Linked DNA regions of Homo sapiens: all the other regions are reported to be linked to region 5. Evidence: microRNA targets listed by miRTarBase, many of them from high-throughput screens and not tested one by one. Region 5 holds a microRNA gene; each other region holds the end of a gene's coding sequence. Distances are between the middles of the regions.
The links. Region 5 holds the annotated microRNA hsa-miR-6873-5p (CAGAGGGAAUACAGAGGGCAAU, at 1,480-1,501, shown strand). A microRNA usually pairs through its seed, bases 2 to 8, with sites in the 3' UTR of a target mRNA and lowers its output. Matches are read on the target gene's strand: a 7mer-m8 pairs with bases 2 to 8, a 7mer-A1 pairs with bases 2 to 7 and ends in A, and an 8mer does both.

Region 1: miRTarBase lists NRG4 as a target of hsa-miR-6873-5p. Seed matches in the 3' UTR shown: 7mer-m8 at 2,595-2,601.
Region 2: miRTarBase lists UCP2 as a target of hsa-miR-6873-5p. Seed matches in the 3' UTR shown: 7mer-m8 at 1,103-1,109 and 7mer-m8 at 1,148-1,154.
Region 3: miRTarBase lists PERP as a target of hsa-miR-6873-5p. The part of its 3' UTR that is shown has no 7-base or 8-base seed match.
Region 4: miRTarBase lists MYH14 as a target of hsa-miR-6873-5p. Seed matches in the 3' UTR shown: 7mer-m8 at 3,013-3,019, 7mer-m8 at 2,979-2,985 and 7mer-m8 at 2,712-2,718.
Region 6: the mRNA of PSMD11 is a reported target of hsa-miR-6873-5p. Seed matches in the 3' UTR shown: 7mer-m8 at 1,727-1,733 and 7mer-A1 at 350-356.
Region 7: the mRNA of HAP1 is a reported target of hsa-miR-6873-5p. Seed matches in the 3' UTR shown: 7mer-A1 at 1,802-1,808 and 7mer-m8 at 885-891.

The regions. Positions count from the first base shown.
Region 1 is chr15:75,940,240-75,944,760 of GRCh38, reverse strand. It overlaps NRG4 (neuregulin 4), which reads left to right. Exons shown (of 6, transcript NM_138573.4): 6 at 1,107-3,825. The coding sequence ends at 1,123. FBXO22 (F-box protein 22) reads right to left here. Exons shown (of 7, transcript NM_147188.3): 7 at 2,250-4,521. Among named protein-coding and RNA genes, the nearest start is that of FBXO22, 39 kb to the right of the region's middle.
Region 2 is chr11:73,971,488-73,976,008 of GRCh38, reverse strand. It overlaps UCP2 (uncoupling protein 2), which reads left to right. Exons shown (of 8, transcript NM_003355.3): 7 at 338-518; 8 at 888-1,337. The coding sequence ends at 1,002. Among named protein-coding and RNA genes, the nearest start is that of UCP2, 9.1 kb to the left of the region's middle. RefSeq lists an enhancer at 1,631-1,720.
Region 3 is chr6:138,089,425-138,092,424 of GRCh38, forward strand. PERP (p53 apoptosis effector related to PMP22) reads right to left here. Exons shown (of 3, transcript NM_022121.5): 3 at 1-2,844. The coding sequence ends at 2,618. Among named protein-coding and RNA genes, the nearest start is that of PERP, 16 kb to the right of the region's middle.
Region 4 is chr19:50,308,660-50,313,180 of GRCh38, reverse strand. It overlaps MYH14 (myosin heavy chain 14), which reads right to left. Exons shown (of 43, transcript NM_001145809.2): 42 at 4,004-4,176; 43 at 2,641-3,541. The coding sequence ends at 3,391. KCNC3 (potassium voltage-gated channel subfamily C member 3) reads left to right here. Exons shown (of 5, transcript NM_004977.3): 5 at 1-1,244. Among named protein-coding and RNA genes, the nearest start is that of KCNC3, 18 kb to the left of the region's middle. RefSeq lists an enhancer at 1-76.
Region 5 is chr6:33,284,243-33,288,763 of GRCh38, reverse strand. MIR6873 (microRNA 6873) reads left to right here and starts at 1,475; the gene lies at 1,475-1,537. It overlaps WDR46 (WD repeat domain 46), which reads left to right. Exons shown (of 15, transcript NM_005452.6): 3 at 70-150; 4 at 294-406; 5 at 529-616; 6 at 738-799; 7 at 1,046-1,150; 8 at 1,259-1,409; 9 at 1,538-1,673; 10 at 1,870-1,969. RefSeq lists enhancers at 465-998, 999-1,532.
Region 6 is chr17:32,479,097-32,483,443 of GRCh38, reverse strand. PSMD11 (proteasome 26S subunit, non-ATPase 11) reads right to left here. Exons shown (of 14, transcript NM_002815.4): 10 at 4,068-4,193; 11 at 3,558-3,593; 12 at 3,247-3,298; 13 at 2,813-2,955; 14 at 125-2,691. The coding sequence ends at 2,813. Among named protein-coding and RNA genes, the nearest start is that of CDK5R1, 5.7 kb to the left of the region's middle.
Region 7 is chr17:41,722,015-41,725,014 of GRCh38, forward strand. HAP1 (huntingtin associated protein 1) reads right to left here. Exons shown (of 11, transcript NM_177977.3): 11 at 626-3,000. The coding sequence ends at 2,687. Among named protein-coding and RNA genes, the nearest start is that of HAP1, 11 kb to the right of the region's middle. RefSeq lists an enhancer at 2,779-3,000.

The DNA of each region.
Region 1 (4,521 bases), not on the chromosome of region 5:
ACACAAAAGCCTTTTACTAAATGTGACAAGATATGTCATGAAAATAAAGTTAGATTCTCTGATGAGGAGAGCCGATTATGAAGACTGGGACTTGCTTAATAATGTTAGCTCATATTATGAAAATCATAGCATAAAGGTACATTATATTTTTAAAACTTATTAATGACCTTCCTTCACCAAGGATGTCCTCCTGCCACCACACCATCAAGCCTTACTTCATCGATAGGTTTATTCATGTCGCCTTGTGTGCTTCTGGAATGTAAGCCTCCCCGGGCAATCTTTCCAATGTATTCCTAGCATAAATCCACAGCCTGAAGTCTTAGCATGCATTTATATTGTTGTTAGACACCATCCCTACTGCAATAATGCCCTAATGCTGACAACACAACTCTCCAAATGGAAAGCAGTGTAACAGTATGATCATGCACACCACATGCCTGTGTGCCAGGTACTATGGTTAATATTTCAAATATTTTAACTCCTATAAACCTTAACAACTGTATGGAGTAGGTGGTATTATTCTCACTCTACAATGAGAAAACTGAGGTTTAGGGAGGTTAAACCCATGTTTTTCTTACTGCATTTCCACAGATATGGGTGTTAGTCTCAGGACTTGCTGGCTACAGAGGGAATTTTTGTCTCTAAATAGTCCCAATTAGCCACAGGTTTTATTAGTCCTTGTTTCCTTGGTATTTTCTTGCCATCTATTATTGTCATTGCTGTTACAGTGACTCACTCTAGCAATCTTTTCCCCTCAACCACCCTTTTCTAACTTGTATATCTAAGACAGGTCACCAGGCTTGTTAGAACTTTGGGTAAGAGGCAGTGAGCAAAGACAGTGAGGGGCGGGGGGTGTGGGCAGGCATGCAGGGAACTTTATATGTGAGACTTGAATGGGGAATCTGACAGAACTCAGTGTTCTGAGGAGTCTTGTCAGGCTGCTGGAAATTTTTGATATTCTAGGTTAGTTTACCTCAACACATCCTATCACAAACAGAAGGGGTTGGCTTATATATGTGAAGAAGATAAGAGACATGTAGATAGGTGTGCGTAGTAAGAAACATTGCAATGGAGAAAGCATCTTAATTCTTACTTATTTTTCACAGGTCATGAACAACACTGAAGAAACGTCAAAGTGAACCAAATCATTGTTTTTATTTTACAAAGGCAGAAAATGAAACACCACTAGGTAAAAGAATTAAAAATCTAATCCTTTATTTCTTAAATAAAACGCTTGTGTAACTCGTATCATGAACCATAATCCATTCTGCTGCAAGGTGTGTGTGCTTCTGTAATGTGCATCAGTCCATCGGCAACTGCTAAGTAGGGGGTGATACCAGTATAATTCGAAGTCACATTGGTTCAACATGACTCTCCCCAGAAAGCTGATGTGCTGAAGCAACCAGAGGCAAATGTTCACACACCTAGAGAGAAACCCTAAGGGATATATGAAGATCTTATGAAAAAGGATGAAAACCCTTTAAATGCAAGGAGTAGCTGGCTTAGTGGCTTCAAAACCACCTCATTCCTGCTGTTATCTGAGAAGCTGCAAGTACTGATGAAAAAACTGAGAAGACATTTCACCTGGCAATTAGAAAAAAGCGCTGACTGATAGATACCTCTGTATCATTCTTTCAATATTGATGAAAATGCTTTCTACTAGAAGTGACTGATTTCAAGGATCTGTCTCTCAAAGGAAGAAACAAAAACCCAAAATTTTGACTGCAAAAGATTGACTAATTCTAGGTGCAAGTAACTGGAAATTTAGGATTGTTATTGTACTACACAGGTCACAAAGTTCCAAACCTATTTCCCTTGTAATTTTTAGTGCATGATTTTTCAGAATGCAGTTTCTATCTTTTTAGGTGCAATATTAAGAACTGATTAGGTCAGAACAATTTAGTTTCTCCAGTTTTTTCTACCTAAGTTACATGGGGGAAAAAAAAGCAATAGTAACTTTAAGGAAGTATGAAAATAAAGTCTTGGAGCAGTGGAAAGGTCTGGGGCTGGTAAATGGCTTAGGCAGAAGGGCATGCACCGGCCAAACCTAACAGCCTGTCTCTGAACTATGTCCTCGTCAAGGCTGGGATGCACGCTGGCTTCTCTACACAGTCTGGCCCAGTGTAAGTGCTGTGAATTCAGTGGGTCACTAGTGTCACCAATTCATTCATCACCCATCATTCACTCATTTCACAAACACATGAGGGTAAGACATTGAGACAGAGTACACAAAATGAAAAGCTCTCACATAATTTTAATAGACTTTATTAGAAGTTTTAGATTTTCAGAAAAACTGAGCAGATAGTATAGAGTTCCCCTATGCTTCCCCCCACCCCAGGCCTTTATTATTAACATCTTGCACTAGTGTGGTATATTTGTTTAACCAATATTGACACATTTTTACTTTACTTTTTGAGACAAAGTCTCACTCTGTCATCCAGGCTAGCTGAAGCCTGTAATTTACATGAAGGGTCCTCTTTTTGTTGTATGTCTTTATGGATTTTGACCAATATATAATGTCATGTATCCACTATTATAGTATTGTATACAGTAGTTTCACCACCCTAAAAATCTCTACTCCATGTATTTACCCCTCCCTCTCTCCCACTGAACCTCTGGCAACCAGTCTTTACTAACTTTGCTTTCTCCAGAATGTCATATATTTGAAATCATGTAGTATGTAGCCTTTCAGACTAACTTCTTTCACTTAGCAATATACACTTAAAGTTCCTCTATGTCTTGTGACTAAATACCCCACCCCCTGCCCTTTTTAAAAAAAAAAAAAAAAGCTAGGCCATATTTTTTTTTTTTTTTTTTTTTGGTGGTTTAAAAATTTACTGTGGCAAAATGTACGTAAGATTTAAATTTTAACCATTTTGAAGTTACAGTTTAAAGGCATTAAATACATTCGTTGTATGTACCAGTCACCACTATGCACCTCCGGAACTTTTTCATGATCCCACACTAATCTCTGTGCCCCTTAAACAATAAATTCCCATTCCCTCCTGCTCCCTGTGACAAAACGTAATCTTTGTTCTACTTTGTCTCTATGAATCTCACTAGTCTAGGTACCTCACATCAGTGGATTCATATAGTATTGTCCTTTTGTGATTTACTTAATGTCTGAAAGGTTCATCCATGATGTAGTATGTAGAAGGATTTCCTTTTTATGGCTGAATAATATTCCATTGTATGGATATAACACATTTTGTCTATCCATTCATCTGTTGGGTATTTGGGTTGTTTCTACCTTTTGACTACGGTGAATAATGCTGCAGTGAACACTGGTATACAAATATACCCTCAAGCCTCCGCTTTCAATTATTTTGTGTATATACCCAGAAATGCAATTGCTGAATCAAATGACAATTCTATATTTAATTGGAAAATCACCATACTGTTTTCTACAGCAGCTGCATACCACTATATTTCCATCAGTAATAAGAGTTCCAATTTCTCCACATCCTTGCCAACACTTGTGTGTTTTTTTAATTTTAATAAGAGCTATCCCAGTGGGTATGAAGTGGTATCTCAATGTGGTTTTGATTTGCATTTCCTTACTGTTTAGTGATGCTAAGCATTTTTTCCTGTGCTCACTGGCTATCTGCATGTCCTCTCTGGAGATCTATCCAAATCCTTTGCCATTTTTTAAATCAGGTTTTTACACTGTTGTTGCATTTTGGGAGTTTTGTATGTATTCTGGATGTTTAATCCTTATTAGGTACGTGAACTGCATATTATTTCCTCCCACTCCATAGGTAATCTTTTTACTCTGTTGATAGTGTTCTTTGATGCACAAAATTTTAATGAAGTATAATTTGCCTATTTTTTCTTTCGTTGTCTGTGAATTTGGTGTCATATCCAAGAAACCACTGCCACATCCTAAGAGTTTTATGGTTTTAGCTCTCACATTTAGGTCTTTGGTCCATTTTGAGTTAATTTTTGCAAATGAGTGAGGTTGCAACTTTGTTAGTTAGCCATGTGGTTATCCAGCTTTCCCATCATTATTTGTTGAAAAAACTATCCTTGGAATAGCCTTGGCACCCTTGTCAAAAATCATTTACCTACATATGAGAGGGTTTATTTCTAGGTTCTCCAGTCTATCCCATTGGTCTATCCGTCTGCCTTTATGCCAGAATCACATTGTTTTGATTACTGTAGCATTATAGTAAGTTTTAAACTCTGCAGGTTTAAGTCCTCCAATTTGTTCTTCTTTCTCAAGACTGACTTGGCTATTTGGGATCCCTTCAGATTCCACATGAAATTCAGGATGGGTTTTTCTATTTCTGCAAAAAAAAAAAAAAAAATCCTAGGATTCTGATAGAGACTGTAGTGAATCTGCACATCACTTTGAGTAGTACTGACATATTAACATTAGATTTTCCAATCCATGAACATGAGATGTATTTCCGTTTATTTTTATCTTTATTGAAGCAATGTTTTGTAGTTTTCATTGTACAAGCCATTTACCACCTTGGGTAAGCTAATTTCTGTGCATTTTATTCTTTTTGACGCTATGGT
Region 2 (4,521 bases), not on the chromosome of region 5:
TTGCAGCCTCGACCTCCCTGACTCAAGCAATCCTCCCACCTCAGCCTCCTGAGTAGCTGGGGCTGACTACAGGCATGCACACTGTGCCTGGCTAATTTTTGTATTTTGTAGAGACAGGGTTTTTGCCATGTTACCCAGTCTGGTCTTGAACTCCTGGGCTCAAGTGATCCACCCACCTCGGCCTCCAAAAGAAGTCCTGGATTACAGGCATGAGACATTGTGCCCAGCCTCTCTGTCTCTTTAAAATCATGAAAACTCGTAGCTACTTAAGTAATTCTCCTGCCTTCTGGAATGATGGGTGAAGATCTTGACTGCCTTGCCTGCTCCTCCTTGGCAGATGACCTCCCTTGCCACTTCACTTCTGCCTTTGGGGCAGGCTTCTGCACCACTGTCATCGCCTCCCCTGTAGACGTGGTCAAGACGAGATACATGAACTCTGCCCTGGGCCAGTACAGTAGCGCTGGCCACTGTGCCCTTACCATGCTCCAGAAGGAGGGGCCCCGAGCCTTCTACAAAGGGTGAGCCTCTGGTCCTCCCCACCCAGTTCAGGCCTCTTGGCTATGCATGTCTATTGTGGGTGGGAGAGAACCACCTGGAAGTGAGTAGCAGCCAAGTGTGACTATTTCTGATCCTGGTCCTGGCATTTCACCAGCATTCACCTATCCCCTTAATTCCTTCCTCCCAGAATTGCTACCATCACTGTTTATTAGGTGTTAAATGGAGACTCAAAGGGAATTCATGCTTATAGCCAAGCAGCTGTGAGCTCAGTTCATTGAGTCCTCCCAGCCTCCTTTGGGACAGAGCAACTGGGTTGGATTGAATACCAGGCCCAGTGAGGGAAGTGGGAGGTGGAGGTGCCCCCATGACCTGTGATTTTTCTCCTCTAGGTTCATGCCCTCCTTTCTCCGCTTGGGTTCCTGGAACGTGGTGATGTTCGTCACCTATGAGCAGCTGAAACGAGCCCTCATGGCTGCCTGCACTTCCCGAGAGGCTCCCTTCTGAGCCTCTCCTGCTGCTGACCTGATCACCTCTGGCTTTGTCTCTAGCCGGGCCATGCTTTCCTTTTCTTCCTTCTTTCTCTTCCCTCCTTCCCTTCTCTCCTTCCCTCTTTCCCCACCTCTTCCTTCCGCTCCTTTACCTACCACCTTCCCTCTTTCTACATTCTCATCTACTCATTGTCTCAGTGCTGGTGGAGTTGACATTTGACAGTGTGGGAGGCCTCGTACCAGCCAGGATCCCAAGCGTCCCGTCCCTTGGAAAGTTCAGCCAGAATCTTCGTCCTGCCCCCGACAGCCCAGCCTAGCCCACTTGTCATCCATAAAGCAAGCTCAACCTTGGCGTCTCCTCCCTCTCTTGTAGCTCTTACCAGAGGTCTTGGTCCAATGGCCTTTTTGGTACCTGGTGGGCAGGGGAGGAACCACCTGACTTTGAAAATGGGTGTGATCCACCTTCCACCTCCAGCATCCAATCTGAAGCCCGTGTAGGTCATCTGGTCCATTTCTCTCTAGACCCAGGCCCTGTACTAACATGGGGAGTGCAGGAGCCACCTGAGAGACAGCAGTGCCTCCCCTTCCTTTGCCGGGCCACTTGAGCTCTTACTCAGAATCTGGTACTCTAGTGCCTGCCATCCCAACCCCCCACCCCAGCCGCAGGCCTGTTTATCTGCACAACAAGAGTGCTCCTGTGTGCCCTGCATCTCCTGCAGTTCCAGAGGAACATGAGACTCTTAGATGCTGTTGACTTTATTTTATTCCATTTTACAAATGGAAGGAAGACCCACCTCCCCCAAAGTCCCAGACCTTGTGAGAACAAGTCAGTCAGCCTCCTTCCACCCTCCACAGCCACAGCCACACCCACAGAGGAAATGTTACTGAACTGGGTGGAGCAGGCCCTGACTCCACAGAGGGTGGGTGGAGGCTGCAGGGCAAACATCTGGTCTCTGCCTGAGGATACTTTCCATTTGTGTTTTTTGTTGTTTTGAGACAGAGTCTCACTTGCTGTCACCCAGGCTGGAGTGCAGTGGTGCAATCTTGGCTCACTGCAACCTCTCCCAGGTTCAGGCGATTCTCCTGCCTCAGCCTCCCAAGTAGCTGGGATTACAGGCATACACCATCATACCTGGCTAATTTTTGTGTTTTTGGTAGAAACGGGGTTTTGCCATGTTGGCCAGGCTGGTCTCAAACTCCTGACCTCAAGTGATCCACCTACCTCAGCCTCCCAAAGTGCTGGGATTACAGGCATGAGCCACTGTGCCTGGCCAGGATATTTTCCATTTGGAGTCTCACCACCACAACCCCCCTCCACCTGCCCCTGCCCCAGCTAGGCATCCAAGGAGGCCGCAAGAAGCCAGGGCCTTGGCTGCACAGGGGTCTCCGCTTCTCTGTCCCTGTTCTTATCACCTGCACTCAGAGGCAGGTGGGCAGGGGTACTACAATTTCAAGGAGTGGAGACTGTGAGGTCCTGGAATCCCAAGGCATCTCCTGTAGGGCTGGGCCCTTAGAATTATGTCACTCAGACCCAGTTTGTAGGTGTCTGAAGAAACTGAGGCCTGACACAGGTGATGCAGGCAAGAACACCCAGAAAGTCCACTACTGAACTGGGACCGGGACCCAGTCCTCCTTCCCCTTGTGGACTCCCCCAGAGACCAGTGCTGGGGTCCTTGGGGAAGCCTGTTTGGCAGCTGTGGAGCTAGGCCCTGAGAACACGACCACCCTCCCTCTTCCCTCAGCCTCAAGCCGCTGAAGCCACTGCTGCTTCGCCGCCTCGTAAGCCCAATGGTCAGAGCTGGAGGCTAGACCCTTCAGTGCTTGGGTTGAGGGCCAGGGTGTTAGATTGGTTTTTGGAGAAGGAACGAGGGCCCAGGATTCTTCAGCTTCTTAGTTTTTGACAAATTGAGCTGAGGCCCCATAGTCCTCGGGAGGGACAGGGTTGAGTGCCATAAGTCGGCAAACCAGGGTAAAGGTGACAGGCAGCTCAGCCAGGCTGCAGGGGGTGGCATATACAGAGGACCTGGCCACTACTTTATGTACCTTCTTACACTAATTCTGTGAGGCAGGCTGTTTGTTAGCTCTGCTCTGGACGGGAAGAAGTAGGGGCAGTTTGGTAGGTGTGTGTCAAAGCTAAACAGGCTGGGTGGGCATGAGCAAGTCAGCTGGTTCATTCAGCAGCCTTAATAGACACGAGGCTACCCAACTTCACTGTGGTTCTGGGTGTGGCCTTAGGACAATGAGCTGGGAACAGTGGTAGGAACCACTGGAAAACATACCAGTGGGTCTCATTCATTCTGATCACAGGTAGATCACTTCTCTTTGGTTCCCAACCCTTTAATGCCTATTAAGTGGGCAGATGATAAGCCCTGCTTTGCCTAATTCAAGGTAACACTGAAGATCACTAAGGTAATAGGAATCTCCTAAGGGACTTTCAGGCCCAAGACCCAGGCTTCCTTCAAGATAAGGAGTAGGCTTTCCTGCTGCCCTACAGGAGACCTAGAGTTGAAGAATTTCACAGCCCTGCCTCTGCACTCCAATTCAGGGCTTGCCCTCAGAACAGGGCAGCTCTCACCATCCCACTCCACCTGAGTCCTGCCCCAGAGCATTTCATGCCTCACCATCTGGTTTCCATGAAAGGCCTGCAAGGTAGGGGCTGTAAGCTTTAAGAAACGGGTTCAGAGAGGTGAAGTGATTTGCCCAAAGGCACACAGCTGGCTAGTAGCACACTGGGGATCCAGAACAGGTGTGTCTGACTCCAAAGCCCACATGCTTTTAACTACTATGCTGAAATGCTTCCTGGAGCCCTGGTCCCAGAGTCTTCACCTCAAGGTCTTTGGGTAGCTGACTTCATGGTGATTTTTTTTTTAATTTTAAGATGGCGTCTCTTCTGTCGTGCAGGCTGGAGTGCAGTGGCAAGATCTCAGCTCACTGCAACCTCTGCCTCCTGGGTTCAAGTGATTCTCCTGCCTCAGCCTGCCAAGTAGCTGGGATTACAAGTGCATGCCACCATGCCCGGCTAATTTTTGTATTTTTAGTAGAGACAAAGTTTCACCATGTTGCCCAGGCTGGTCTTGAACTCCTGACCTTGTGATCCACCCGCCTCGGCCTCCCAAAGTGCTGGGATTACAGGCATGAGCCACCGCGCCCAGCCCATGGTGATTTTTTTAATGACAAAAGTGCTACTGAACCCCCGTTTTAAAAAAAAAACCTTAAGCTGATGTGATTTGAATGGTGGAGTCCCAAGCAATCTGGAGAACATGGGGCCTTTTCTGGCACCTCTGAAGGCATTCCATGGAATTGGCTACCTACTCCCCGTAAGCCTGGATCTATCCTCACCCAAGCTCAGACTCTAGAAGGGAACCTCCCTGGCATGGAAGGGGAGCATAACACACGTGTTGACTATGAGGAGGCAAGTGTGGTCTACGCAGGCCCAGTTGGACCTGGATGCTGGAACTCCAGGCCTTGAGGGCAGCAGTGCTGTTACCCCTTCCTGAATCTAAGCAGTGAGTTCACCAAGCACTTTCACATCAAT
Region 3 (3,000 bases), 100 Mb from region 5:
GAAAGACCTTGATATATTACTTCTTTGTTACAATCAGCAGTAAGTGCCACTTAGCATGTCTGGCTACTTACAGAGTGAAATAATTGCTTAGGAACCTAGAACTGCTTATTTAAAGGGTGGGAACTCAATATTTAATTACTGAACCAAAAAGCACCTCAGCTTTACTGTGGGAAATCTCATGCAATGCACTGTTAGCCTTCAGGTGGTTTCTCAGCCCAATTCTTCATTACTCTCCAGAATCCTCTGGAACTTCCCTTCTGTTATGACATAAAGGTATCTGTCTTGGTGAATCTGGATCAACAAGGAATGGCAGATCTCTATACTAGAACAAGGCTGAAGGAAGCAGACCATTTCTGCAAAATAAGAGTTTATCTTTGTCATAAATACTTTAGGTTGACATGGTTCTATTATATCAGGCTCGTTGGTCCCAGGAGGTTGCATTTTTCCTAAATGTGCGCCGTTAAGGTATTGTGTGATTGAGGAGGGGAAGAAGGCTGGATGGGAAATCATGCAAAGACAAGTGCATGTGGTAGAGAAGCTTATAAACGGAGTCATTTTCATGTTTAACAGGAGACCACGTTTCTTAATCTCTAGATATCCAGTATCTTCTTGAATGAGCTGTGGTATCACTTTAAAAGATGGGATTTTTAACATTTTTAATGACCACTTCAAATTCTCCACCAGCCACGGCATAGTTGTGTGGGTTTTTCTTTTCAATTTTGGTATAATCACCCAGATTACATTTCTCTATGAGAAACATTCACCTCGCATTTTGAAAAGCATAGAAAAATTCACTGCCAAGGACTAGCTGGCCAACAGTAGCCCTAGGGAGATATATTTCCGTTCTCCCACCCAGCCTCTCTGCACCCATCCTCACAATGACATACACCATAGTGGAAGTAACATATGACTTATGGTGGGAAAAAAAATAACAAATGATAAAATGGGAAGGAGGGCAAGGGGAAAATAGAGAGACTGCTACCCCACCACCTGAATGGAAGGGGACCCCAGCACAAGGAGGAGGCTTCAGCTACACTGCACACATGTCCCCCGGGTGTCTGAACCTGCCAGAAATCTCTTAGTCCATTTTCCTCTGGTTGATAGCACTGCAGAGAAATTGTTTAATGTGTGTCTAGGGTATTGTTCATTGAGGAAAAGTTCAGGGAATAGACTATTAGAATTCATTAATCTCCACTCAAAAATTGGTTTTGGACACCTAAAATGAGCAAGGCCCTTAAAACTTCAAACAAAAAAACAAACAAAAACCACTTTTCATTATATCCCATGTTCTTATTACCCATTTTTTTTTTAATTCCTTTCCCCAGATTTGAAAAATGGAAAAACTACAAACTGGAAACAAGTTTAGAATACCTGGTTTATTGGGAAAACTTCATAATGAAAACTACAATTAGCTTTTTCCACAACTTACAAAATAATAATCTGATATTTAAAATGAATTGGTTTTCATTATGTAAGTCGAAATGGTAAAAAATCATAATGACCTATCCGATGCATCATATATATGCTATTCAGAGAAACTCAAATCCCCGAATTCTCCTGTGGCATGTTTTATATCAGACATTTAAAATCTGTTTACCAAGAAAGACCAGGATTTTAACTATATGTAGGTTTCTGCTTACAGTTGCAAACTATCAGAAGCCTGTCTATATGATAGAGCCCAGATAAACCTGAGATTTAGAAAAGCAAGTCATTTATTCTCCTGAGGCTGTTTTAGTGGCACTTTTGTGACAAGAATGACCCTCCTAATGCTTTACTACACAACTTAACCAGATCTATCAGTCATGATAAATTAGACCCAGTCCATCTTTCAATCCAGTCTACTCTGGTTCTGAACATATAAACACAAAACACTACAGATTTATTAATATAGCATTTTCCCACACCCTAACCCTATAAAGAACTTTAAAAGAGAAAATTTCATCTAAATATTTCACACTTAAAGGAAAGCCTTACCAACTATGGCAACAGGTTTGGACCATGAAATAGTACTTTCCTAGATGACATATCGAGTCAACATGAAGCCTTAGCTAAAATGAATGATTCAGGATATTAATGAGAAATTCTCACAAATGATATGCATTTAGGAAATGATTTTGCTTTCCTTAAATAGTTCGAAGGCTTGAAAATAAACTTTTTTTTTGCATTTCTTTTAGAATGTTTGGTCATTAACAACTTTTAACCTTATCTTCCTCTTCTCCTTAGCCCTTAACAGACCGAGTCCATTCTATTTGGAAATAACAAGAACTTGATCAGATTATTAAATCTTGGAAACCTCATTTTTACCTTATAAAGTGTTAAGTTTCACGTGCATATTCTCTTACAAATGTAGTATAAATGTTATGGATAGATATAAGGAAATATTGGCATAGTATAGGTAATTAGTGAAAAGACACAACTTCACAAAACATAATAAAAGATAAACATGAAACTATAACACTACTTAAAAAATATTTTCTCCCAAATTATTTTAGCATTTTTGACTAGTTTAATAATATGAACACTGCCAAAAAATGGGTTCAAAGTCGCCTGGAGAAACAGTTTCTTCTTCTGGAGTCCATCTCAGCAGCAGCGATTTTCTCCCACATTCATTCCCAAGTTAGGCAGATGTGTAGAAGTACCTGGGCTTGGCATTGCCCAGAAGGTCATCTTCGTAGTTGGGGAGGCAGCAGAAGAAGAAGGCACAGCCAATCAGGATAATCGTGGCTGCCCACCCAAAGCCGTAGGCCCAGTTATAGATGTAAGTGACAGCAGGGTTGGCATGAAGGGTGAAGGTCTGGGTGTACTTCACGGGGTAAATTACCAGGGAGATGATCTGGAACACAGCTAAAGGGAAGAAAAAAATCCCAGGGTATGAATGCATACATGCATGAAGGAATAAATACACATTAGCGACAGATTACCTCCTTCCACCAAGTTTCTGCCTTGAAATAAGTATAAAATCTACCTGGAGGCAGGAGGAATCTGGTTAGGCAGAGGCCA
Region 4 (4,521 bases), not on the chromosome of region 5:
TCATTTCCCACCTCCTATCCTGGCTCAAGGATGCGCTACCTCCCCCAAGCCCAGAGACCACACCGGTCCCAGACTCTTTAGCGGACCCCCCTTTTGGAGCCGGGGTCCCACGGAATTAGCCACCTCCCTCCCTCTGCTCCCACGGCCTCAGGAACCCCCCACCCGAGGGTGGATGGGGGGCGTCACTGAGCACGATTCTCGATGCAACGATTCCTATGCAAGGGGCATTTTGAGTCCCCCCCATCCTTCCCTCGGACCCTAAACCCTGGTGAAGCAGGGGTGAGGGGTGGGGCGGGTTTTGGTGGGGGCGGGGCAAAGGGCTAGGGGCTCCAGACACCAGGGTACGGGGTGGGGACTGATTATATTGCCAAAGGGTTCAACTTCTTTAACAAGCCCCCCCGTTTCCCCTGACCTTCACGAAAGCCGAAGGAGGCGGGGAAAGGGGGTGAGGGTCTTTTCCAAAGGGTACTGACCTCTTCCCAACGTCTCCCCCTGCTCGCCAGTCCGCCACACGTACCCAGCTTTTGAGTTCAGCTTTTCAAAATAACCACAATCATGATAAACTTCTACAAAACGTGATTCTCCTCCCCTCCCACCCCATCCCCCAAGTCAATAGTGTGGGATTCGGGGAGGGAGAGAGCGAGCTAAAGGGACTCTTTCCAAGTCCGGCTCCCCCTTTTCCCCCCGGCCGCCAGGGTGCCTGCACCTACACGCATGCGCTGCATGACGCGCCCCCCACACGCATGTCGCACCCCTCCTGCGCTCCGGGAACGCACGGACACGGGCCAGGGGGCGGGGCGATTGGGGAGGAATGAATGGCGGGGGGTCTTCCTGAGCTCCGCGGCTCACCCTCCCCAACACACACACACACACACACAGAGCAATAAGTTTCTCTCACTCAAATGTGGGCGGGGCGGGCCTAGCCTGTCGCTGGTGGGGGGAGTGGTGAGGGGGCGCTCTCAGGGATGGGGGCGGGGTTCGGAGACAGTGTGGGGAGGGGAGGTCTGCAAATCGTCCAACTCTGGTGCTAATGGCGGGTCTTCTCAGCCCACCCGCAGGGCAGGGAGGGAGGGGTCGGCGTGGCCCCTTCCCCAAGCCTCCCCCACGCCCACCCTGGGTGCATGAACCGCCCAATGCAGAAGCTGCCGCATGTCACCCCCCTCTCCCCAAAGAAAAAGTGTCATGCCCCCTTCCCACCCACCCTCACTCCCCACCAAAATAAACGTTTCCTTTTCATTTAAAAATGGCCTCCTGTGTGCCTGTTCGGAAAGTCTCCTGATTGCGGCTGGGGCGCACAGAGGGATTGGGACTTCTAGAGTGGGGCCCTATTGCTGGGCACAGTGGCTCAGGCCAGTAATCCAAGCACTTTGGGAGGCCAAGGACGCAGGAAGATCGCTTGAGGCCAGGAGTTCAAGACCAGGCTGGGCAACACAAGAGAGACCCTGTCTTTACAAAAAATAAAATAAAATTAGCCAGGTGTGGTGGCATCTGTAGTCCCAGCTACTCTGGAGGCTGAGGCGAGAGGATCGCTTGAGCCTGGGAGGTCGAGGCTGCAGGGAGCTATGATTGTGCCACCGCACTCCAGCCTGGGTGACAGAGTGAGACCCTTTCTCAATTTTTTAAAAAAGGGGAGGATGGGCTTTGGTGATCGTGACATCTGCTCCACGGCTTGCACCTTATTTAGGGCAAGCACCTGCCTCAGTTTCCCTGATAGTAAAAATGGGGATCCACACCTCTAACTGAAAAGTCACTGAGGACTCAGTCTGACGAACGTGAGCCCCCACACGAGGGTGCCTAGTTCCCACGAGAGAGACAGACCTGGGTCCCCAAGGTGGGGTCAGGGGCTGAGGGCTCAGCCTCTATATGTGCTGACTCTGAGGCCAGACTGTCTGGGTTCAAACTGTTTCAACTTCTTAGTAGCTGTGTGTCCTTGGGCAAGTCACTCAGCCTCTCTGAGCCTGTTTCCACCACTCTAAAAGGGTGGGAGGGGCATCACTTAGTTATTCAGCAAATATTGAGTGAATGCCTGCTGTGTGCCAGACACTGTTCTAGGCACTGGAGTGCAATGAAATCTCTACCTGTAGTGCTATGTAAGGGTTAAGATAAACTGTGTGCTTAGCACAGCACGCAGCACAAACGACCACGGCTGTCTTTTTGTTTTGTTTTGCTTTTGGGACAGGATCTCACTCTTCACCCATGCTACAGTGCAGTGATGCAATCATAGCTCACTGCAGCCTCCACCCCCTGGGCTCAAGTGATCCTCCCACCTCAGCCTCCCGAAGCACTGGGATCACAGGTATGAGCCACTGCAGCAGGCCTGTCATTTATTTTGCAAAACTTAAGAGTTGGCCCGAGTGCAACACCCCTTCTAGCACTCACTGGGGGCGTGGAGTGAGGGATGCTGCTGCTCTGAGACTGTTCCCTCATCTGTATAATGCAGGGAATATTTCCATTATACACTGGAGTCAGGAGGAAAGGAGTTATGAAGCGCCTGATCCACAGGATGTCCCTGTATACCCACGCAGGTGTCATTCTAACCAGCAGGCTGCCTGACCTGCTGCCCTAGCAGGCTGAAGCAGCCTGTGCCCATCCTGCCCCATCAGAGACCCCCTGCAGGAACACACACAGCCACAGAGATGGTCCAGTCGGGTTGGAGTTTATTTCTGCCAGAGCCTGGAGGCTGGGAGGGTAAAGGACACTCCTTTAGTCCCAGAGGGAAGCTCCGAACCCTCAGAGCAACCAGAAGGGAGGGCAGAGCATGGGCAGCAGCAGGAGTGAGAGGGGTCCCCTTGTCCTGCCCCTTTGCAAGGGTTCAAGGCTGGTGGAGGCCTGGGGCTTCTGTCGCTCAGGAGTTCAGGGGTGGACGCAGAAATGGGGGAAGGAGAGTGGCTACGTAGAGAGTGAGAGCGAGATTCCTAAAAAGATGCACAGAGAGACCCTCAGAGAGGCCAAGAAAGATGGTGAGAGGGTAGGGAAGGAGAGGGAGGGAGAGAGAGAGAGAGAGAGAGAAGCAGAGGGAATGGGTTGCACTGGCTGAGGATGGTGGAGGAGCCGTCTCACTCCCTTCCTAATGTCTATAGATCAATAACGAGGGAAGAAAGGAGGACAGGGAGCTGATGGAAACACAGCTTGCCAACTGTACCCAGTCCCCCAACAAGCAAGGTAGCTCCAGTCATTGCCTCCCTGCCTGCCCCGCTCCTCTGTGTTTAGGGGTCATCCTTTGATGGGAGGTTGCAGGGGACCCAGGTGGGGGTGATAAATGCCAGAGTGCTGCACCATTTCCAAAGGGCAAGAAGTCAGAGGGCGGGGTTCCTGGGACAGGGGCCCGTGGGGTCCAGGGAGGAAGGGGGCTGGGCCCCATCTGTTAGTGCATCTGGGGACAGGGTAGGGTCACTGGGGGTGGGCTGGTGGGGACCCCTCAGGCTCCGGGGATGGCCCAGACCCAGGCTGTGCTTCCTCTGCCTCCTCGTCGGATGCCACGCCCTCCTCTAGTCGGAAGACCTGGCGCACCGTGCGGGTGGTGAAGGTGAGGGGGCCGCGTCTGTGGGGAGGAGAGACCAGGATACAGAGATGAAATGAGGGGAGGGGAGGGGAGGAGAAAGGGGGAGGAGAGAGAGAGATGAGGGGGAGAGAGAGAGAGATAGGAAGAGAGAGAACAAAATAAGGGGGAAGAGAGGGATGAGATCAAGAGAAATGGAGGGAGACGGGCAGAAGCAATGGGGGGCAGAGAGAGATGAAGGACACACAGAGAGGAGGAAAGGAGAGAAAGGTGGTGGTGCACGGTGGGAAAGGAGGGCACAGAGATGACAGGGAGAAATGGGTGTGGGAAGAAAGAAGTTACCTGGATTTGGCTCTCCCGCAACACAGCCGCTGCTCCCACAGCCCCACACCCCCGTGGATCCCATTTCCCCCTGTTGTTGCCCCTGGCACGGCCTCGCGTCCCTGGGGTTTATGGAGTTAGGGTGCTCCCCACCCGTCAGGCCTGTACGTGGGATGACCATACCGAAGCCGGTTCCTCAGTGTGGTCACTTCACGGTTCATGGACTCGGCCGACTCTGTGACATCTTCCAGCTCACGCTGCAGCCTCCGGCGGCCGGCCTGAGCCCGGGATGCCTCCTCCTCGGCCTCCTCCAGCTGCCGCTTCAGCTGCTTGACTCGAAGGTTTCCCTTCTCCAGCTTGATGGAAGCAGGGGGACTGGGTTATATCTCCAGGTACTGTCATCACTCCCTCCCTCTCCAACAGCCCACTACTGCCCCATCCCTACTGCCCCCTGACTCTCTCTGCCCCATCCTCTGCTCTCTGTTTAGGCCTTGTTCTTTTCTCCTAAATCCCTCATGCCAGCCTCTACCCTGACCTCCAGTCTCTCCCCTCCAGGTTGTCTCCTACATGGCCTCAGAAAGGTCTTCCTATACCCAGAGCTGACCCAGACCCTCCTGCTCACAATCCTTTCATGGCTCCCCAGTACCCCCGGGACAAGGTTCCAGCCCCTCAGCCTGGCATTCCAGGCCCCACAGGGTCTT
Region 5 (4,521 bases):
GTTCCTTGAGAGTGAGAGGGTTGGGGTCAATCCAAGGCTGTCTGCTAATTGCGTCCTCCTTTCCCCTAGACCCAAGATCCATTCCCAGGCCCCGCCCCCGTCCCTGTGGAAGTGGTCCAGAAGTTCTGTCGCATTGACAAATCCCGAAAGGTGAGGTCCAGCCGGAGAGTTGGGAAGTGCTGGAGGCAGGGAGTGTCTGGGTGAGTTGGATGGAGGCTGGGACAGGTAGCTCTCCTGTGACCCCACTTATCCTGTGGTTCTTCTGCCACTCCTCCCCACCAACAATGTTACAGCTACCACATTCTAAAGCCAAAACTCGAAGCCGACTTGAGGTGGCTGAAGCTGAGGAAGAGGAAACAAGTATCAAAGCTGCTCGTTCTGAGCTGCTGCTTGCTGAAGAACCTGGGTGAGTGAGCCCTAATCTGGACCCCCATTCCCTGCCTTTTGGGACTGTCTTTTCTCGTTTTTATGTTGGTATACTTGCTTCATATTGGGAAGCTTTACTGCCATCCTAACCCTTGCTTTCAGGTTTCTGGAAGGGGAGGATGGGGAAGACACAGCAAAGATATGCCAGGCTGACATTGTGGAGGCTGTGGACATTGCAAGTGCAGCCAAGGTGAGCCTGAGGAGGTAAAGGAGCCAAGGGATTGATTGGTGGTGCAGGACAATAGAGGAATGGGGGCTAGAAGAAGGCGTTACTGCAGGGCACTCTTTTTTTTCACTCTTCTCTTTCCCAGCACTTTGACTTGAATCTGCGGCAGTTTGGACCCTACAGACTAAACTACTCTCGAACTGGAAGGTAAGGTTGAATTCTAGTGACTCTTGAACTAAGATGTGTTTCCTTAACCACTTCAGCCATTCCCAGTGTATGTTTGGGTTGCTGATGAGGGGAGGGTCCTTCGATTTGCTTGGGTGTGAGGGTAAGCACCTACAGCAACATGTGTCTGCCCGCCTGGAGAGATGGGGCTGGCGTGGGGCAGACCTCAAGTTGTCTGAGTCGGTGGTCCCCTGCCTTAACACCCTGCCTGCCCCTCACCTCCAACAGACACCTGGCTTTTGGAGGGCGCCGAGGTCATGTGGCTGCCCTTGATTGGGTAACAAAGAAGCTTATGTGCGAGATCAACGTCATGGAGGCGGTGCGGGACATCCGGTCAGTGGCCTCACTGTCAGCGGTCAGTTGGGGTGAGATAGTCCATTCCTGATTGAATGATAGCCTGTGACCTCATTTCCCAATTGAACCACTCTTCCTCTCCCCCAGGTTTCTCCATTCTGAGGCACTGCTTGCTGTTGCTCAGAACCGCTGGCTCCACATCTATGACAATCAGGGCATTGAGCTCCACTGTATCCGCCGCTGTGACCGAGTAACACGGCTTGAGTTCCTGCCCTTCCACTTCCTCCTGGCTACAGCTGTGAGTGGCCATGGAGCTCAGGAACTGGTTGGAAGCCCTTGGGATGACCACCTCTCCTTTAGGACCCCAGCAGAGGGAATACAGAGGGCAATCAGGACTGGGTCATTCTCTCTGTCTTTCTCTCTCAGTCAGAAACAGGGTTTCTAACCTACCTGGATGTGTCAGTGGGGAAGATTGTGGCAGCTCTGAATGCTCGAGCTGGGCGGCTCGATGTTATGAGTCAGAACCCTTACAATGCCGTCATCCATCTCGGACACAGCAATGGTCAGTACCTGGCTTAGTTTTGACTCTGACCATCCTGACTTGCTTTTCTTCTATATTTGTACTTCATGAGTCCCTTAAAGTTACCCTTTTATTTCCCTTTTTTGTTATCTCTTGGTCTTGAGTTCCCATCTTTCCCATGTTTAGTAACCTCAGGCTTAGGTGTGTATTAGCAACTTTGGTTCTTCTTCTCTTCCAGGTACTGTGTCTTTATGGAGTCCAGCTATGAAGGAGCCACTGGCAAAGATTCTCTGTCATCGTGGTGGGGTCCGGGCTGTGGCAGTAGATTCTACAGGCACGTAAGTCACTGGTGGGGTGAGGTGTTAGGAGTCATAGGTGGGCAGAAAGGTGTGGAAGGCAGTGTGCTTTAGGAGCACAGAGTCTAAAGCCAGGATGCCCAGGTTTAAATCGCAGTGTTACCACGGATGGGCCTTGCAAGTATAGGCATATTTCATAACCTCTGTGTGCCACAGTTTCCTGACCCCGAAAATGGAAATATGAGTGTCCATTTCAAGGGTCCACAAACTTTTTCTGTAAAGAGTCAGATAGTAAATATTTTATGATTTGCTGATAAGAGGTAAAATCAAAGGGTACCATGTAGGCATTTAAATACCAAGAGAAAACAAATTATCACAACTTTTTTTTTTGAGATGGAGTCTCGCTCTGACACCCAGGCTGGAGTGCAATGGCGCAATCTCAGCTCACTGCAACCTCCACCTCTCAGGTTCAAGTGATTCTCCTGCCTTGGCCTCTCGAGTATCTGGGACTACAGGCGCCTGCTACAACACCTGGCTAATTTTTGTATTTTTAGTAGAGACAGGGTTTCAGCATGTTGTTCAGGCTGGTCTCGAATTCCTGACCTCAAGTGATCTGCCCGCCTCAGCCTCCCAAAGTGCTGGGATTATAGGCGTGAGCCACTGCGCCTGACCTTTTTTTTTTTAAATCTTTTGAGAGAGACGTAGTCTTGCTCTGTCTCCCAGGTTGGAGTGCAGTGGCGTGATCTCGGCTCACTGCAACCTCCGCCTCCCAGATTCAAGCGATTCTCCTGCCTCAGTCTCCCAAGTAGCTGGGATTACAGGCACCTGCCATCATGCCCAGCTAATTTTGTATTTTTTTGTAGAGACGGGGTTTTACTGTGTTGGCCAGGCTGGTCTTGAACTCCTGACCTCAGATGATCTGCCCGCCTCGGCCTCCCAAAGTGTTGGGATTACAGGCGTGAGCCACTGCGCCTGGCCCACACATTTTTAGGTTATAAAATTAAACGTAATATGGCCAGGTGCGGTGGCTCACGCCTGTAATCCCAGCACTTTGGAGGCCAAGGCGGGTGGATCGCCTGAGGTCAGGAGTTTGAGACCAGCCTGGCCAACATGGCGAAACTCTGTCTCTACTAAAAATTCACAAAATTAGCCGGGTGTCGTGGCGGGGGCCTGTAATTCCGGCAACTTGGGAGGCTGAGGCAGGAGAATTGCTTGAACCTGGGAGGCAGGGGTTGCAGTGAGCCAAGACTGTGCCATTGCACTCCAACCTGGGCAACAAGAGCAAAACTCCGTCTCAAAAACAAACAAACAAACAAAACATAATATGAGACTGGACACAGTGGCTCATGCCTGTAATCTTAACAGTTTGGTAGGCTGAGGTGGGCAGATCACTTGAGCCCAGAAGTTCGAAACAAGCCATGTCACCCATGACATGGCAAAACTCTGTCTCTACAGAAGATAGAAAAATTAGCCGGGTGTGGTGGTGCATGCCTGTAGTCCCAGCTACTCAGGAGGCTGAGGTGATCCTCCCACCTCAGCCCAGGAGGTTAAGGCTGCAGTGAGCTGTGATCATGCCACTGCACTCTAGCATGGGCAACAGAGTGAGACCCGGTCTCAGAAAAAAAAAATAATAATAATCAAATATATTTGTGTAATACAGATCTACTAATGGGAAGAACTGAATTTCTCTTTTTGAGGTTAACATTTTGCCTAATTGATGTACAAAGTTAGTGTTCCAGATGGTCAAATTTGACTGTAGATATTCATGTTCATGCTGATCTGTAGAGATTGCAAGTATTTCATCTTTGAAAACATCTTTTCACACAGGTAATGATAGGTGATATGTGAGGTGCTTGAAATGCTGTGAAGCACTTACGACTGTGTCACTGTGACTTGTAGTGTACAAAGCAGCAGTGCAAATCAGGATGCTGTAGTCGCTGTCGTGACCACTCGGCTGTGTGTTGTAGAGCAAAAGCAGCCACAGTATTAAGTAAATAGTGTGGCCCCGTTCCAATAAAACTTTATTTGTTGGATATTGGAATTTGAATTTCATACGGTTTTCACAGTCTCAAAATATTCTTTTGATTTTTTTTCAACCACTTAAAAATGTAAAAACCATTCTTGGCTTGTGGGCTATACAGAACTAGATGATGGGCCAGGTTTGGCCCATGGGCAGTAGTTTACCAAGCCTTGGTTTAAAGCCCTCATATAAGCTGTTGTAGACATTAAGATGAGTTAAGGCATATAGTTTAGCACAGCGCTTAGCAAAATAGGGAGCGCTGTGTTCATCATTGTCATTCAAGATGATCGTTCTCTCCAGGTCTGGCTGATGTGAGGGGTGGAGGTGGTGTCTGCTTTGGATTTCTGCTGTTCCTGAGGGAGTATCTGCATTTTCCACAGCTTTTCTGTCTGATTTGTATTTTCCTCTGATTCCTTTTGTCATCAGGTATTCACTGGGCACCTGCTGTGGGCAGGGCTCTGCGCTGAGGTTCTGGAGACAAAAGGATGAATCGTTGAGCCTGCCCTGGTGTGGTGCTCCCGTTATCCTTTAGGTATAAAAACTTGTGGCTATTTTTTTTTTTTTTTTGAGACAG
Region 6 (4,347 bases), not on the chromosome of region 5:
GGGAGAGGAGGCAGTGACACAACTGCTGGTCCTGGAGGTCTAGAGCTGCGCTGTCCAGATAGAAGCCACATAGGTAACTTTATATTTTCTAGCAGCCACATTACACAAGTAAAAGGGAAACAGGTGAATTTTAATAATATATTTTATTTAACCCAATACCCAAAATATTTCAACACATATATAAAAAAGTTATTGACATATTTTACACTCCTTTTCTTTTGTTATCATACTAAGCCTTCGAAGTCTGGTTTGTGTTTACACTTGCAGTGTATCACAGCTCGAACCAGCCACGTTGCAAGGGCCTGACAGCTGCACATGGCTAGCGGCTACATATTGGACAGCACGGGTCTAGAGGGCATCATCTGACCAAGACCCGCAAAGGGAACTGAGAAAAGGGCTACTGCCTGAGCATCTCAGGACTGCCCTAAGTTTGAGAAAACATCTCCCCTCTACTCCAAAACTAGATCTCTTTGGAGTACTTTTTAAAGTCCTTTATAGAAGCAAAGCTCTTTCTGCAAGTGAAATACAGAGACACAATACTAAAACTGACAATGGCTGAACTGCTCAGACTGAAGAGGATTTAGCAGGTCCCCCAGTGGTCCCAGAGCCCCCCGCCCCCGCCAGGGTGTGAGGCAATATGAAAATCGCTGCCTTTGAAGATTCCAAAAGGAAACGAAACCACAACTGCATGTCAGGACTCTCCAGACACCTGCACGTCTATGACTTACTAAGCTTCACATCACAATCACCTGCCAAGGAAGCAGCATCCTCACTGAGTAGAAGAGAAAGTAGGCTCAGAGGATCTACTGCCCAAACTTACATGTGCTCACTGGACCATGCTGCCCTGGAAGAAGACACCTGAACTCATTTCCAACCTCAGAACTCACACACCAACTTTCTTGCCCCCAAAGCCCTCCAAGTTTGGACCCCAAATTTACCTTAAGGACTCCCATTACACAAATGAGATAACAGCTTTGGCCAGATGAGAGCTAGACTAGTGTGGGGCCACACAGAGCTGTCTGGACTTGCTTGGAAGCCCTCCAGCACTCAAGAAAAAGACACCTTTTGAAAAAAAAAAAAATTATTTTTATTGGAACTCATCTGAACATCAGATATACCTGGTGTTGGTTAGCAAGAACCGTTTGTACATTTGATACTGATGGTGCCAAAACCAAAACAGTGACTAGACATGATGGGGAAAGATGTTGAGAACAAAAACCTGATTTTGGAGAGGAAAATAAAAGCCAGTCAGATTCAGTGAGGATGCAAAACCTGGTACAACAAAATCCTTTTACAAAATATAAATTTATTATGAAAACCTGGAAGGATAATCCAAGGAAGGTAAAGAAAGAGAAAAGGAGGCCAGCAGAAGAAGGCAGGAAGGAGAGGAAAAGAGAAAAAGACAAAGAGGAGATGAGAGAAGAAAATACAGTTCAGCACAACAGAAGTGCAGAAGCTCACCTACCCAAATGGCATTAAAGCCTCGCTGTGTAATCGTGTCAGAAAACAAAGCATACTGACACATAGTGCTCTACTTCCCATCCACTTGAGTTCTAAGAGGTAAATTAAAAAGCTCCCTGGGAAGGGGACATGAGGTTGCTCAAAAACCCAACAAAGAAAATTAAAAAAAAAAGAGAGAGAGAAACCACACCCCACAGTCTCATTTCCGATGTTCATTGTTTAAAAAAGGAATAAATCCATCTGAAAGTAGGAGAGGAGGAGTGGGAGAGGGAGAGAAGCTCATGGCTTTCACAGACAGCCTGACTCCCCTGGAGGGGAGAGGAGGAAGGCAGAGAGACATGATGGTCTCCTGGTTGAGAGGGGAAAGAGAAGGGACAGAGAGGAAAGAAGAGAGGAGAGGAATGCAGGAGAGGAGAAGAGGGGCAATTAAAACACTGACGACTAATCTAGTTTACTGTGTTTAAAAAAAAAAAAAAAGCCACATGCATAGCAGGCCCCTTGGGGGCTAAGGGCCCACACTGCTCCCTGTGTGGCCGTGGTAGACACTAGCTCCTGGCCTCATCCCCATTCCTTCACAGGTCAGAGTGGAGCTATGCAGGCGCTGCTGCTGCTGCTGCTGTTGTTGCTGCAGTGGTGGTGGTGGTGGCGGCGGCGGCAGGACCTTCGGCTACTCTGCTGGAGCCAATGTGGGGAGGGAAGGGCAGACAGGCCGTATGGTAGGGGAAAGAACACCAAAATGCCTCATTTCAAATAAAAAAGAAAACAGCAGTCTATACACAGTTGTTTGTTTTGGTTCAGTACAAACAGAATAAAAAGTCATTGCTTTTGATGGTCAGCAAACACCCAATTCTGAGGAGGAGGAGAGGTGATGCCCAGCAGGTGGATTAGGACCCCCAGTGGTTGGCGGGGTGCCTGGCTTTGCGGCCCTCTCCCAGGAGGCAGAGAGCACAGCTTTAGGTAGTGTAAGCCTTTTTCCTTTTATTTAGAATAATCTTTTTTTTTTTCTTTTTCTTTTTTTTTAAGCAATTTCCCCACTCCCAAGTTGGGCCAGTAAAGATTACATGAAAACTGGCACACCTATTGGCTGGAATACAGATGCACCAAATGAGGATTTAAAAACTTTCCGAGCGAAAAGTAGAACAAAAAGAAAAAAGAATCTCCTAGCATTTTCCCCCAAGGTTTCACTCTCCCGCCACACACACTCTCCAAAGGACCGCTACAGATCCAACTCTGCAAGAGAAGACAGAGCAGTGTCAATCAGGAAGCCATGAGGACACCAGGAGGAGGTTTTCAGTCTCGACACGCAGAAGACAGAGCTGCCCAGCCCTGGGGTCCTGAAGCCAGCACTCACCTATGTCAGTTTCTTGGCTTTGTTGTAGAGGGAATCCACTACTTTGCTCATGTTCTGAATTGTTTCCAGAGCAGCTTCGTAAGTTTTATCTACTGGGGGTTCATCGAAAATAATCAGGACACCCTCCCCCTGGTCCAAAATCCCTGCAAGAAACACAAGGGCAACCCAGGTAAAAGATGAGGTTAGACACAAAAGTGTTTGTGAAGCAGCCCACTCCCTAGTTGACTCACTGTGTCCAGAAAAGAAGGGAAATAGAATTCATCTCCCTATTCCATGTACACATGCTTATTACACATTCTCATCACAGGGAAGAGGGGCCAGGACCCCAGGGTGAACCATCGGGGGAAACAAATAGAACATCTTCTTTGAAAATAAACTTCTTCAACCATCTCATCACCACCACCAGCCCCCTTGCCTGTGTGACTGTTACTTACCATGAAATTTCTTGTCAAGAATCATCTGTGATAATTTCCTTTCCACGTCGGCCTAAAATCAAAGCACATGATTAAAGGGACCAGTATCCACTAGTCAGAGATCACCCTGACACAGTAGCTTTGTTGGAGGGGTCTTAGGCCAAATGGACTGAAAACAAAATAGCAACAATGCAACTCCTACTCTAGTCCACACTGCCCATTCCCCACTGAGAAGCTGGGGAGCTTTCCAATGAGGCCAATCAGGTGCATGTGCCACCCCTCCTCGCCACCCCGTCCCATTCCTCCCTGCAGATGGCCTTAAGACTCCTTACCTTGGAGAGTTTGATGAGACTAGATATGTGTTCAATCTAAAAGGAAAGGCAGAGAGACACCAACACTGAAAGTTTTACTTTTGCCTCCAATAAGAGAAGGGAGGGAACAGGGGGAGAACTGCTGTATTTCTCAAAATTCTAATGTAAGACCCTCCTTGGCCGTGCTTAAGTCTCTTGTTCTCTGCCCATCTGCCTGCCCTTCACTGCTACACACAATAAACAGACTCTTATCCCACACACCCAATACAGAAAACAGGTACAACACATGCAGTGACTAAAAGCGAGGAGGAAACTGCTCAGAACACATGCAGGGGCAACCCACATGCCTCTACCCACAGCATCTCTCTCCTCGATTTTTGTTCATTTTATCAACAGAGGCCCAAGCTCTTGGTGGCCTCTTGCCCACCAGGCACACCCCTAGAAGTGAGTTCCCATTCTGGACAGGTGTGGAAGGGAGGTGGCTACAGTGAGAATGCCTGGCCAGAAATGGAGTCCCCAGAGGGTTCTCACCTGTACTCTGGAAAAAGGCTCAATGACTCGGATCAGATTCTGTTCTAGTAAGTTATCATACAACTTGGCCAAGTGTGTGCTGATGATTGGGTCATCCCGGAGCTCTGCCCGGTAATCTGTCAGAGCCTGCCAAAGGAACCAGTTGCAGAGATTGGCACAGAGAATCACTTTAAAGTCATGCTACTCCTGCTTCCTAGATAGTCTGCTGGCCCTTATAAAACTACATGGTTGAATGAAGTTAGGGGAGATCTGGGGAGATGCATGATACAAAGCAGAAAAG
Region 7 (3,000 bases), not on the chromosome of region 5:
TTACAGGCACCCACCACCACGCCCAGCTAATTTTTGTATTTTTAGTGGAGACGGGGTTTCACCATGTTGGCCAGGCTGGTCTCGAACTCCTGACCTCAAATGATCCACCCACCTCGGCCTCCCAAAGTGCTAGGATTACAGGCATGAGCCACTGCACCCAGCCTCCCCCAAATATTTTCTATCTGTGGTTAGTTGACTCCACGGATGCAGAGCCTGAGGATACGGAGGGCGACTATACTTGTTCCTAAACCCTGTTCCAGGTCTGCTCTGGGGACTTCACCCTAAGACAGTGGGTGACTCTCTCCCATCCTATCTTTCACAGCCAGGCCACTGAGTCAGTCTCTGGGGTGAAAGGATCAGGGAAGCATGAGCTCAAATCCCAGCTCCACACTAGCCATGATCTGCTGGTGAGGGCATCACTTAACCTACTCTGGCCTGAGTTTCTCCATCCAACAGACACTTATGACATCACCCACCGCCCTCTAGGAGCTGCTGCTATGATTAAACGGCGTATTTAATAGGAGTCCTCGGCACATACTTCAATATTAGCATCCACCCTTTCTCTACAACTTCGCCCTGCCAAGTGCACACACACACTCCCTAGAGAGACAGCTGGAGGCTGGGCCAGGAGGGTATAGATCCTTTATTTCCTGCACCACACGCACACAGGCTGACAAGCAATAGGAGATTGAGAGGTGCTGTGTGAAGGGGGGCAGGTACCTGCAGGAGGCCTCAGTCCCAGCCCCCAGCTATTGAGGAACAAAGGTGTGGGAAAGGGCAGAACATGGAAGAGGAAGCCAGGGGCAGGGAGGGGGGGATCAAGACAGAGGGGAGAGGGGCTGGGCCACGGATGGGAGCCTGGACACCCCCAGGCCACTGGCAGAAGAGGGAGGGAGGGAGAGGAGACACACCACTGGGCAGAGGGGCCCTCACCCACCCACACACAGAGACACTTGTGGTTACAAACAGTAGGTAGGGACTGAGAAGAAAGGATGAAGAACAGGGAAGACAGCCAGGTCCCTCAAGTCAACAAGAACCAGGGTGGCTACCATTAGCATGGGCATCAAGGGGTGAGGGGCACATTGTTGGGAAGGCGCTCACAACTCCCTGCCGGTGGAAGCTGGGCCCTGTTCCCTGCTCAGGGCTGAGTCTGGTAGCCAGTGGGCCTCTCCCGGGCTTCTCCTGCCCCCTGGGCTGCCATGTGGCCCAGACCTGGCAGCCACAGCTTTTGCACCAGCTGCAGAGCGAGGGCCGGGGTTCCTACCGCCTGTCCCTGAAGACGTTGGAAAAGCCTCCAACATGTGGGAAAGGGCAGAACATGGAAGAGGAAGCCAGGGGCAGGGAGGGGTCCCCAAGCTCCAGCCCAGGTTCATGAACACAGAGGGTGGGCTGGTGACAGACACAGGGTCCCATTTCAGAGGATGGGAAGGAGGGTCTGCGGGTGTGGGGCTTGGCCAGGCAGCAGAAGGAGGGGCCTCAAGCTGTCTGTGGGGCCTCTGCAGGCTGCTGGGGAACAGCAAAGCCTGGAAGAGAAGCAGGTGGATGTGAACTGGGGCATTGATGACCACAGGCCTGGCCTGGGCGGTGGGCAGGGGTCTGATCAACTGTATCAGAAGGACACGGAAAGTCGCCATTGATAATTATGCAGGTTGCCCCCTGCATGCGCCATAAAGGTCATGGTTCAGTTTATAACCTGCACAAGCTTACATGACACGCCTGCTGAAGCCAGTGCTATTCCACCCGGCAGTGACCAAAGGGCCATGAGAATGGGGACAGGCTGGGACGGGTACCAGGACAGCACTAGAGGGGAGGGATGGGCCAGTGAAGGTGCTACAGCACAGGAGTAGAGAGGACGGGCTCAGATCTACCCCGGCTGTGTGGCCCCAAACAAGTGTCCTTAGCTCTCTGAGCCTCACCCTCCTCACCTAACCAATGGGGACACATCACCTGCCACGGAATGAGGCTGATGGGAGCTGATGCACGTGCAATGGCTGCTGTGCATGAGTGTCACAAGGTCATCTTTCATGTCCTGCGGCTCCTTAAAGAGGCAGGGCTCACATGGCCTGCACTCGGAAGGTGCAGCTCCCAGACTTTGGGGTTTCTGGCTGGGGAGAGGAGACCCTGTTCCACCCCACAACCCTGCAGGAGGCCCTAGCCCACCTTCTGACACCCAGGGGACTGTTCCAACTGTGGCCCTTGCTGGTGAAGGCCTTTGTCCCCATAGCCTGGGCAGTCCCAGAAGGCCTCTCTTCCTCCCAGGCCGTGGGAGGGTGGCTGGCCCTGTCCTCCAGCCTGGGTCAGCCCCCGGGCTGCTCCACCATCCCACCCACCGCCCCCCGTGTTTGTTTTGACTGCTGCTGCCACTGCTGCAGAGTTGGAGAGCCTGGGGGATAGAGGAGGCAGGGGTTGGGGGCAGGGGAAGCAAGCGGGCAGAGATGGGAAGCTGAGGCGCAGTGTGGGGGCACAGTCCCAGCCCTAACCCCCAGCCCAGCCCCCAGGAGAAAAGTGGATGGAGATCTGGAATCCTAAGCAAATGCCACATAAATGAGCACTGACACTACGGTTCCCACTGAAGGGGATCAGAGGTGTCTATGCAAATGATATGCAAAGTCCATGCAAATAAGCACAGCAGGTAGAGCCAGGCTGGGGCAGGTGAGCACTCGGGGAGCTTATCCACCCTCTCTTTTCATCGGCACGACGATCTGCAGCTTGTCCGGCTGGCGGCAGGGAGGGCCCCGTGGGGGCACTCACCTTTCTGGAGCATCTTCCACCTCAGCTGCCGCCTGTAATGGGCATCTTGCCAGTTGGCCAGCTGCTGGAGGACATAATTCATGTCCAGGTGTGAAGGGCCCAAGCCGCTGGCCTCCAGGGCTGATGTCACCACGTTCATCCGCGTTGCCTCATCCAGCTCCAGTTCCACCTCCTCCCAGCCCTCGGTCTCCTCTGACACCAGCTCTGCCTCTTCCATCACCCCTTCCTCAGCCGGCACCTTCTTGGCAG